2 separate regions of the Homo sapiens genome follow, and region 2 is linked to region 1. Evidence: fine-mapped expression QTL. A gene starts in region 1. The other region holds a variant in brackets. All regions are shown on one strand. Distances are between the middles of the regions. Region 1 holds the start of MLF1-DT (MLF1 divergent transcript). Region 2 overlaps MLF1 (myeloid leukemia factor 1).

What was found. PIP is the estimated chance that this variant, and not a neighbour inherited with it, causes the effect.
Region 2: its variant is the best candidate, but not a certain one, in a credible set for the expression of MLF1-DT in testis (GTEx, PIP 0.71).

Annotation. Positions count from the first base shown.
Region 1 is chr3:158,568,423-158,573,808 of GRCh38, forward strand. MLF1-DT (MLF1 divergent transcript) reads right to left here and starts at 2,644. Exons shown (of 5, transcript NR_104147.1): 1 at 1,749-2,644. It overlaps MLF1 (myeloid leukemia factor 1), which reads left to right and starts at 2,772. Exons shown (of 8, transcript NM_001369783.1): 1 at 2,772-2,925. The coding sequence starts at 2,879.
Region 2 is chr3:158,588,580-158,593,903 of GRCh38, forward strand. MLF1 (myeloid leukemia factor 1) reads left to right here. Exons shown (of 8, transcript NM_001369783.1): 2 at 3,855-4,002; 3 at 4,803-4,847. Among named protein-coding and RNA genes, the nearest start is that of MLF1, 20 kb to the left of the region's middle. The variant GT/G (reference allele first, on the strand shown) is at 3,267.

The DNA of each region.
Region 1 (5,386 bases):
GCTATTACCCTATTAGGCAATTTTCAGTTTACTTGGCTCATCTCATTCCTCACTCAGAAGGTGAGTTTTAAGGCATATGAGTAGGACTGTACATTATATACACCAGGCAAATGCTACTTTAGCACTGCCCTGGAATGCTTTTCCACTAGACATCCACTTCCTTCCTGTGGGTCTTTGCTCAAATTCCCCTTAGTGAGGCGTACACAAAACTTGCTATTTATAATTGCACCTCTCCATACTCCTTACCCTGATCAGCTTTTCTCCCTAACACTTATCACCTTACAATATACTATTTTCTATTTTGTTTATTTTGAGTCTGTCCTTACAAGAACATAAACTCCGGGAAGGCAGAGATTTTTGTCCGTTTTGTTCAATGATGCCTAAGGTCGTAGATCAGTCCCCAACACTGGGTAGTCACTCAATAAATATTTGTAGAATTGAATTTATGTGATGTGAATATATTCCCACTGAATTTTGTACTTTTTAGTTTGGGTCCATTTAGCTTGTCAGCATGATTTTGAAAAATGATTACCCGCTTTCATCCTGCATCTTTAAGTATGACTCATCACTCACATACCATATAACCAGCACTCACAGAGGAAAGCTCCAGGTACCCAGCTCAGTTCAATTACTAGCTGTGTGAACCTTGGCAATTTATTCAGCTTCTCTGTGTCTTGAATGCATCATCTATACATGGGGATAAAAGCCATCTCTACTCCATAAAACTGCTAATGAGGATTCAATGAGGTAATGCATATGGAGTGCCTACAACAGTGCCTGGCACACATTCAATAAATATTAGCTATTATGATTATATTTACAGCCAAGTCCAGGACCCTCTCCTCTCAGTCCTGTTCTGCATCTCTATTCCTCCCATGCTGGAGTATTCATTCTCTCCTGACCCACGCTTTCTTTCATTTCCACCTCTTACCCATCAGTTCTGAAAATGATGTCAAGGTCTCTTCAGTGCCAACTCTGCTCTGCCCTCCTTTTTTTTTTTTTTTGCATTTGTCATTAGATCCAAACTGCTTTCACAAGGTTCAGCTAATTCCCTGACTAACCTGTGCCTGGACTAAAGCTTTTATAACAATGTGATTCTAAAAAAGTTCCCACAGAAACTAGAGGGTAACATTACAAATTTACTTGGCCTTAATCCAGAACTATTTTAACACCATCTTTTATCACATAACTTACTCCATTTCAAGTTTTTTTTTAAGTGTGGCCTCCTTCACATCTTGTGCTTATACTATTTTAAAGAGAAAAACAATTTAAGGTCTTATAAAACAATTTTGTTTGCCTTGAAATTTATTTAGAAATTTTCGAAATTTTGTGTATATGTTCTCTGAGCTTTATTCTGAGTCCAGAGGAAAAGAAAATATCCTCTTTCCTGGATGGGCTGTGCCATCTCATCTTGGGCTGTGAAGTCTGCCCTACCCCATGCCACCAGTCTCAGGGGAAGGAAGCTGCCAGAGAACTTGGCTAAAAAAGGGGGATGGGGAGTAAAAGATCCAAACGATTAAATTTCCAGCTCTCAAAATAACCCCTGACTACTCCTGTCACCTCCAAATCAGGGCTTGCACACTTCTTCATGCTGGCAAAGTGCCACCCCTCTGGCCTGATCCCAGGGGGCCCTGATGAGCTATGGACGCCCCTTTATCTCTGCAAGACAGCCACGTAGAGAAGCTGGGGAGCTCACTGAATTAAGGGTGGACATGCAAGATGTATTTTCTCTTTTCTTATACTCTTACCATTCTTCTCCTTAATCTCTCTTCTGTCTTCCCCTCCATCTGTCTCCAGGCTCCTGAAAGGCCCCGTGATAGTGTTTTCTAAAACTTAGTAATTTGAGTACCACTATCACGATGTTCCTCTCCCCTGCTCTGCCTACCCCTCCGCCCCACCATATCCAAATTCCACCTGTTCTATTTGATAGCTTACTTTTTCACTTAAAAATGCAAAATCTAGCTCTTGATGTATATCACTGATTTAAATTTAAAATCAGTTTCCTTGCCATAAATAGAAAGCTCCCTGATAAATGTAATGCAAATAAAAACATATAGTAGTGGAATTTTAGTTGGATATGGCTGCTTGCTGCAGGCCTGTGCCTGAAACCTGCTGTTAGGTTAAGAAATGCTGGAGAAGTGTTAAAAACATATCAGCATCGCAGTGAGACTTGATCTTTGAAAGAGAGACACAGAAGGACAACCGAAAAGAGAGCAGCTTTCTCAAGAGGTAAATAAGTTTGTTGAAATCTGATAGGCTTCATCCCATTTCCTTCAACAACTGAGTACACTATTTGCTAACTGTACTAAAAAACGTTTTGCACATTTTTTCTTATTATTTGCTCACAGCTTTTGACTACCAGAGAATGTTTCGGATACAGGACTAATTCCTGTGGATGACAGAATGCGACCGTTGAATGGGACATTGGGTGTCATCTGGTCCAAATCTTGACCCCTTTTCATTTTCCCCGAAAGAAAGACTTGCGGCTCGGAACCGAGGGCGGCATGCCCAAGGTCACAGAAAGGGTGGTCTAATGTTTTGGTTCCTGCAGCCCAGAGAACAAGCTATCCCATCCCACAGGAGCCTTGGCGAAAAGCTCCCCGGCCGGCGCAAGGCCAGACTTCTCGCCTCCACTGTGTTGATTGCGGTTGCCAGGGCAGCGGCGCATTGCTCCCCGCCTCGTCCTGGTGACGTCACAGAGCAATGTCCAATGGGAAAGCAGCTCGGTGTCACGCACCTCCTATCCCGGCGGGCACCGCCTGCGCCGCGGCGAGTGAGGCGTCGTCCGTACTGGAGGCTAGCTCTTGTCGCGGCCGCGGCGAGTTAACATCGTTTTTCCAATCTGTCCGCGGCTGCCGCCACCCAAGACAGAGCCAGAATGTTCAGGATGCTGAACAGCAGTTTTGAGGATGACCCCTTCTTCTCGTGAGTTACGGGAGCCAGGAGTCCGGGGTCGCGCGGGAATTAAGGTATCGAGGGGAGCTATTTTAAGGGAAAAGAGCGAGTTTTAGAGGGCGAGAGAGAATTCGGAGTAACTCTGGAGGCGGTTTGAAGGAGACGAGGATTTGGAGGCCTGGGAGGGAAGAGAGAGGAGGATTTAGGGGTGTGTGAGACAGGGAAGAGACGGATTTGGGCGCATGAGGTGGAGAGAGGAGGGTTTGGACGCGTGAGGTAGGCGGAGGGAAGTTTGGGGGCGTGAGGTGTGGGGAGGAGAGTTAAGGCTGGGAGTGGGGGGAGAAGAGTTGAGGCCGGGAGGTGGGGGGAGGAGAATTGAGGGCATGAGGTGGGGAGAAGAGGTTGAGGGCGTGAGGTGAGGGAAGGGTTTGGGAGCATGAGGTGGGAGGGAGGAGGGTTGAGGGCGTGAGGTGAGGGGAAGGGTTGAGGGTGTGAGGTGAGGGGAAGGGTTGAGGGCGTGAGGTGAGGGGAAGGGTTGAGGGCGTGAGGTGAGGGGAAGGGTTGAGGGCGTGAGGTGGGGGAAGGGTTTGAAAGCGTGAGGTGGGGGGAGGAGGGTTGAGGCTGTGAGGTGGGGGGAGGGTTTGGGAGCGTGGGGTGGGAGGAGGAGGGTTTGGGGGAGTAAGGTGGAGGGGGGAGGGTTGAGGGTGTGAGATGGACGAAGGAGGATTTGGGGGTGTGAGGCGTTTGGAGGAGGGTTGAGGGCGTGAGGTGGGGGGAGGGTTTGGGAGCATGAGGTGTGGGGGAGAGTTGAAGGTGTGAGGTGTAGGAGGAGGGTTGAGGACGTGAGGTGGGAGGAGGATTTGGGAGCATGAGGTGTGGGGGAGGGTTGAGGGTGTGAGGTGAGGGGAAGGAGGGTTTTGGACCGCGAGGTGGGGGGAGGAGGGTTGAGGGCGTGAGGTGGGGGGACGGTTTGGGAGCATGAGGTGCAGGGGAGAGTTAAGAGCTTGAAGTGCAGGGACGAGGGTTGAGGGCGTGAGTTGGTGGGGAGGGTTTGGGAGTATGAAGTGCAGGGGAGGATTGAGGGCATGAGTTGGTGGGGATGGTTTGGGAGCGTGAGGTGGCGGTAAGAGGGTTGAGGGTGTGAGGTGGATGGAGGAGGATTTAGGGGCTGAGGAGGATTTGGGGGCATGAGGTGTGGGAGGAGGGTTGGGGAGAAGGGTTGAGGGCGTGAGTTGGTGGGAAGGGCTTGAGAGCATGATGTGGGAGGAGGGTTGAGGGCGTGAGGTAGGGGGAAGAGGTTTGAGGGTGAGAGGTAGTGGGACGAGGGAGGGTTGGGGCGTGAGGTGGAGGGAGGAGGGTTTGGGGGCATGAGGTGTGGGGAAGAGGGTTTAGGGGCATGAGGTGTGGGGGTAGGAGGGTTGAGGGTGTGAGGTGGACAGAGGAGAGTTGATGGCGTGCAGTGGGGGGAGGAGGGTTTGGGGGCGTGAGGTCGCAGGAGGATGGTTGAGGACGTGAGGTAGAGAGTTGAGGGCCCCAGGTAGGGGGAGGAGGATTTGGCTGCATGAGATGGAAAGAAGGCCCTTCCTCACACTCCCGGGGTGCCTGCTGCTTTCCATTTGGCCGGACTTTGGGTGCCCGTCATGGCTTCCTGTGTGCAGAGTTGGCCTTTGCAGCTTCAAGGGCTTTGCAGGTGACATAACTACCATCTCGGTGAAACTTATGGTGAGAATTATGTTCACATAATTGCAAATGGGAGCAGGGAATATTTTATAGCTCCTCTTTAAATTCCAAATAGGAACAGGTAATATTTTATAGCATGACAGTTCATTGAAAAGGGGAAGTTTTTAAAACAGCATTTTCCATGTGAGTGGGGAATGTGTCAATGAGAGCACGACAAAGTTGGAGAGTTGTGCTTTCTCTTCGAAGTTGTTGGAAGTTGCCATGCCAATTGCGCTGTTTTCTTTGCTCGCTTTGTTACAGAGCTAACCTTGTTTGTGAAGGGACTCCGCTTTCTGTCAAAACTAGAAATAGGACAGGGAAGCTGATGGGGCGGGGCGGGGGGAGGGGGGCGGGAGGAGGGCGGCGGGGGGGGGGGGGTGTGTATTTAACACCTCAGGTAAGCAAGTGCCATTCGTTGCCTTTGAAGGTTCCCAGTGAAGTAATGTGATGCCCTAGAAAGAAGGCATCCAGAAATTGGTTTCACTATTATTTATTTTTGAGTTGTGGGATTTTTTTTCCTTAATTCTAACTTTGGCCATTGTTACAAACACATTGACATAGTCTAGTTGTATCCCTAAGAGGGGAAATTTGTAATACTTTTTAGCCTAAGTGTTTTTTGCCAGTTTGAATTTTGATTTCAAGTCTAGTTTATTTTGATCCCTTAAATTTTCTAGGTTTGCAATTTGGAGAGCATTTTTTAAAAAGGTCTTAAAATAAGAGTTTATTGCACATATTTTTCAAACAATATCTGTGGGGGGTGTGTTGTGCGTCT
Region 2 (5,324 bases), 20 kb after region 1:
AAGAGAGCGAGACTCCGTCTCAAAAAAAAAAAAAAAAAAAAAAAAGCAGAAAAAAACTGCCCTCATTCTAAGTCATCAGTTTTGTTGCTTTCATCTAAAGACAGGAAAATGAACTACAAATCTACAAAAAGTTTATACGTGTGTTTCTGCATCATAAAAAACAGATATTTATAGATATTCGCAAAATTTTGAGACCACATTCAGGATGGCCTCAATTAAGACATAAGCTTCTATGGCATAAACAAACCTCATTTGAGGATGTTGTTTCTCAGACATACAGGTGGTCTTACTCTGCAGCAGCTGAAACTGAAGCACAAGAAGCCCTTGGAACTATCATCAGGACATGTAAGTCCCATGTACTAAAATACTTGGGCCAGAGAAAACCAAGTATAGTTTAAATAGGAGTTTCCCCTCCCCTAAAATCCAAAGTCACTAAGGAGGAACTTCAAGACTGCAGGCATTGGTTGCAGTGGAGATTTTTCTCTGTGTAGCAAGCACCAAGGTGAGCAGAGCCTTTAATTAAGAATAGTTAGTAATTTTGCCAAGAAATGGTAGGGGGACCATCTGATATATAGGATGGTTCAAATTCCATAAACATTATTTATTTATTTATTTATTTTGAATTTTTGTATTTTTTTTTATTTTATTTTGAGACGGAGTCTCACCCTATTGCCTAGGCTGGAGTGCAATGGCATGATCTTGGCTCATCACAACCTCCACTTCCCGGGTTTAAGTGATTCTCCTGCCTCAGCCTCCAGAGTAGCTGGGATTACAGGCACCTACCACCACACCCAGCTAATTTTTGTACTTTTAGTAGAAACGGGGTTTCACCATGTTGGCCAGGCTCTTCTCAAGCTCTTGACTTCGTGATCCACCCACCTCGGCCTCCCAAAGTGCTGGGATTACAGGCATGAGCCACCGCGCCCAGCCCTCCATAAACATTTATAATGTATACTGTGTGTCAAGCACAGAGGTTGGTAATATGAATGAATAAAGATACAGTTCCTACTCTAGAAGAACTTATACTCTAAAAGAGGAGTGAGACTTTTGTATATTTTAAAATTAAAATTAAAAAACTTGTATTAGTTTCCTATTGCTTCTATAACAAATTACCACATATTTAGAGACTTAAAACAACAAATCATCTTATGGTGGAGATCAGAAGTCCAAAATGGGTTTCCCTGGGCTAAAATCAAGGTGTTGGCAGGGCTACATTCCTTCTGGAGTTTATGGGGGTGAATCTGTTTCCTTGTCTTTTCTAGCGTCTAGATACTGCTGTGTTCCTTGGCTTCTGGCCTCTTCCTCCATTTTTAAAGCCAGCAGTGTAGCATCTTCTGATTATGACACTACTATCTCCTTCTCATAAGGACCCTTGTGATTACATTGGGCCCACTGGGATAATCCAGGATAATCTTCCCATCTCAAAATCCTTATACACATTAGCAAAATGTGGTAAAAACTGAAGACCTAACAAAGATTCATGGTTGTGTGGCTGAATATATTCATGTTAAGAGAATGAAAAAGGCAAGTCCAAGACTGGGAAAAAATTTAAAACCTGTATCTGATAAAAGTCTGTGTCCAGAATATATAAAGAACTCTTATAACCTGATTTTTAAAAATGGGGGAAGTATTTGAAAAGACGGTTCTATCAAAGAACATACATGAATGACAAATAATACAAAATAAAACTACAATGAGATGTTATGACCCTACCACTCAAATGGCTACAGTTAAACATTGACTATCCTATATTTCACCAAGAATGCAGTGCAACTGGAACTCTCAGTTACAGTTTTCATAAAATTTACATACTCTTCTAATACAAGCCATCAGTCCTTGCTCTGAGGTGTTTACTTAAGTCAAATTATGTATACACAAAGACTAGTACATAAATATTCATAGTAGCTTTATTCATAATAGCCAAAAACTAAAAACAGTTTTGTGATTATGATACTGATATATGTATGAACTTAGCAATAAAACTGAATGAACTGAAATAGAGAACAACATGGATGAATCAAAGAAGCATTATGCTAAGGGAAAGAAGCTAGACACAAAAGATGACATACTATGTGATTCCATTATATGAAATCTGGAGAAGACCAAACTATAATGACAGAAAGCCTATTCATGGTAACTAGGGCTAGGAGCAGGTAATTATCTGCAAAGAGACGAGGAAGCTTTTTGGAATGATAGAAATGTTCTACATCTTAATTATGGTGGAGGTTATGACTGCACTTTTTAAAATTCATCAAACTGTACAACAAAATTGGTAAATTTCGTTGAATGTAAATTATGCCTAAACAAGGCTGAATGAAAACATCTGTCTATACATACAAGCACAAATCCAGTTAAGCAGTTTGCTAATCTTAAACTCACACTTGGAACAATTATGCTTTTTTTAACCTCCAAGGTAATGTGTGAATAAATCTGAGCTCTTTTGGAATAGGTTTATGTATACAAATACTATGAAATTCAGAGGAAAAGCTCTTTCTACTTGGACTTATGAGCAGAAGACAGAATTTTTGAGCTTCCTCCTTTGAGCTTCCTCCTTTGAGCTGGAGTTGCAAGGAAAATTTCTTTTTTTTTTTTTTTTTTGAGACAGAGTCTGGCTCTGTCACCCCGTCTGGAGTGCAATGGTGCAATCTTGGCTCACTGCAACTTCTGCCTCCCGGGTTCAAGCAATTCTCCTGCCTCAGCCTCCGGAGTAGCTGGGATTATAGGCGTACGTCACCACACCCGGCTAATTTTTGTATTTTTAGTAGAGATGGGGTTTTACCATGTTGGCCAGGCTGGTCTTGAACTCCCGACCTCAAGCAATCCACCTGACTCAGCCTCCCAAAGTGCGGGGATTACAGGCATGAGGCACCACGCCTGGCCAAGAAAAAATTTTAAAAACTTTCTAGCTTCTTTATGATGACATCAGAGGATTGGAATTAGAAGGGGGAAGGGTGACCTAAGAAGAATAACTGAAGTGGAGAATCTGAAAGGAGGCCAGACTATTGGAGAGGGAGTTCCACTGGGCTGCAGGAAAGCATAAGATTGCCTTGGTAAAGTGAGCTCCAATCATGGTGTACCTTAAGTTCTAGAACGAGGAATAAGGAATTGATTAGTGGGTCAGTAACTGTCCAACTGGAACAAAGTTGGGAAACCACTGTGATAAGGTAAAAAAAAAAAATTTAGGTTCTTTAATGAGACTTGTGATGAAAGGGTAAATATCAGATTATAGTGTTGGTATTTTTATGCAATATGGGATAAATAAAGAT[GT/G]TTTTTTTATTATGCATTAAATGAATTATATTGGATAACAGTAACAGGTTTTCATTAATTTTATTTATAACTACAGATGCTTCTCAACTTAACGATAAGATTACATTCCAATGAACCCATCGCAAATTGAAAATATTATACATCAAAATGCATTTAATACACTTAACCTACCGAGTATCATCAGAACATACACATTAGTTTACAGTTGGGCAACATCATCTAACATAAAGCCTACTTTATTATAAAGTGTTGAATGTCTCATGTAATTTATTGAATACTATACTGAAAGTGAAAACCAGCATGGCTGTATGGATCATTGAAGTACTGTTTCTCCTGAATGTGGAGTGCTTTCATACCACAGTAAAGTCAAAAAACCTTAACTTAAACCATTGTAAGTAGGGAACCATCTAATAATGGATCTTTATGAGATAATTCTATTCTATTTATGAATAAAATAGAGTTCTCTTCTACTCTTCTTTTATCTAACAAACATATTAGCCCAAAATAATTATTTGTAATATTTACCTGCCTACTTACTATTTAAACTCCAACACTGAATCTTTCATGATTATGTATATTTTCAACAGTGAGTCCATTCTTGCACACCGAGAAAATATGCGACAGATGATAAGAAGTTTTTCTGAACCCTTTGGAAGAGACTTGCTCAGTATCTCTGATGGTAGAGGGAGAGCTCATAATCGTAGAGGACATAATGATGGTGAAGATTCTTTGACTGTAAGTTCTTTTTTTTAAGACAGTTAGTGAGAAGGCCCTGTAGGAATTTGAAGAAAAGTATTACAGAAGTATATATCTATAATGATAGGATATGACTAATATTCTTGTTCTAGAAATCACTATTATATAAAAGGGGGGACCTTTGGAAAGGTGAATCCTGAACAGTGACTTGTCAGCTATATGGAATTTCACTGTGCTACCAAAACTGTTAGGTCCATAGAAGCATATATTAGAAGCAAAACTTAAACCATTATTTTTTATATTTATGTATACATTTCTCACCTTATAACTTCCTCTGATATCTGAAATTAGAACAGGCAAGGAAATATCCTTTCTCTCCCATACTCATTGTTTTAATACTTGAAAATAGTATCAAAAGCTACAAAGGATTGTCTTTATTGGACCAGGAAACACTGATCTTCTATATGGTTACGTATGGACCTTCAAAGCTTAGATTAACCTTTGCTTGTATCTCAAAAGCCTTACAACTGAAATATATTTTCATATGTCTTGCCTTAGAGCAAAGCTAGAGGTTACAAACATACTCAACTAAAAATTAAAAAAAAAACAGGATATTTATATATTGTAACCATTTTCTTTTTTGCCTCTTTTATTTCTTTTGCTTTTTCAGCCTCATGAATGATAGTTCTAAGATAACAAGCCCTCAGGGGTTTCTATAAAGATGAATCTCAGCAATTGAAATGTAGCAATTTGAAATTCAGTAAACATTTAATTGGTAAATTGAGAAACTTCTATATAATAAATGTCATAATCAAATGAATTGGATATTATTTTTCCAGGCAACGAGTTGTTCTCTTGTGCCTTTTGGCGATTTTGGTGGTATGGTTCGTATCTTAAGACACAAATCATTTTAGCAATATTTTCTGACAAATATTTATTTTTCATTAACTCAAGCTGACTGAATTGGCATGCAGCCTCACTTCCATAATGGCTTTTTAATGTTTGTACTGAAAACCTCTGTTTCAAGTATCAGACTTACCTTAGAAAGTTTAGGCACATGTTTCCTGAAGTAAGTCATTTCAACATATATAAAATTCATCTTCAAAAATAAAAAGTAGATTTTATTGAATGAATATTTGCTTGATTTACAAAAGGGATCCTCATAGTTGTGTTTGAAAGTTGGGGACTTCCACATGCTTATGATTACTTTCCAAAAGGTTTTTTAAAAAGTACTAAACTGTAGATAGATAAGCACAACGTTTGGAAAAGCACAGATTAACTGCTTTCTCTAGGATTTTGTTGCCACCTTGCCCAGGCAGCTTTTTCTTGTCTGTTCTTAAGAATGGCCACTCTGCAACCAG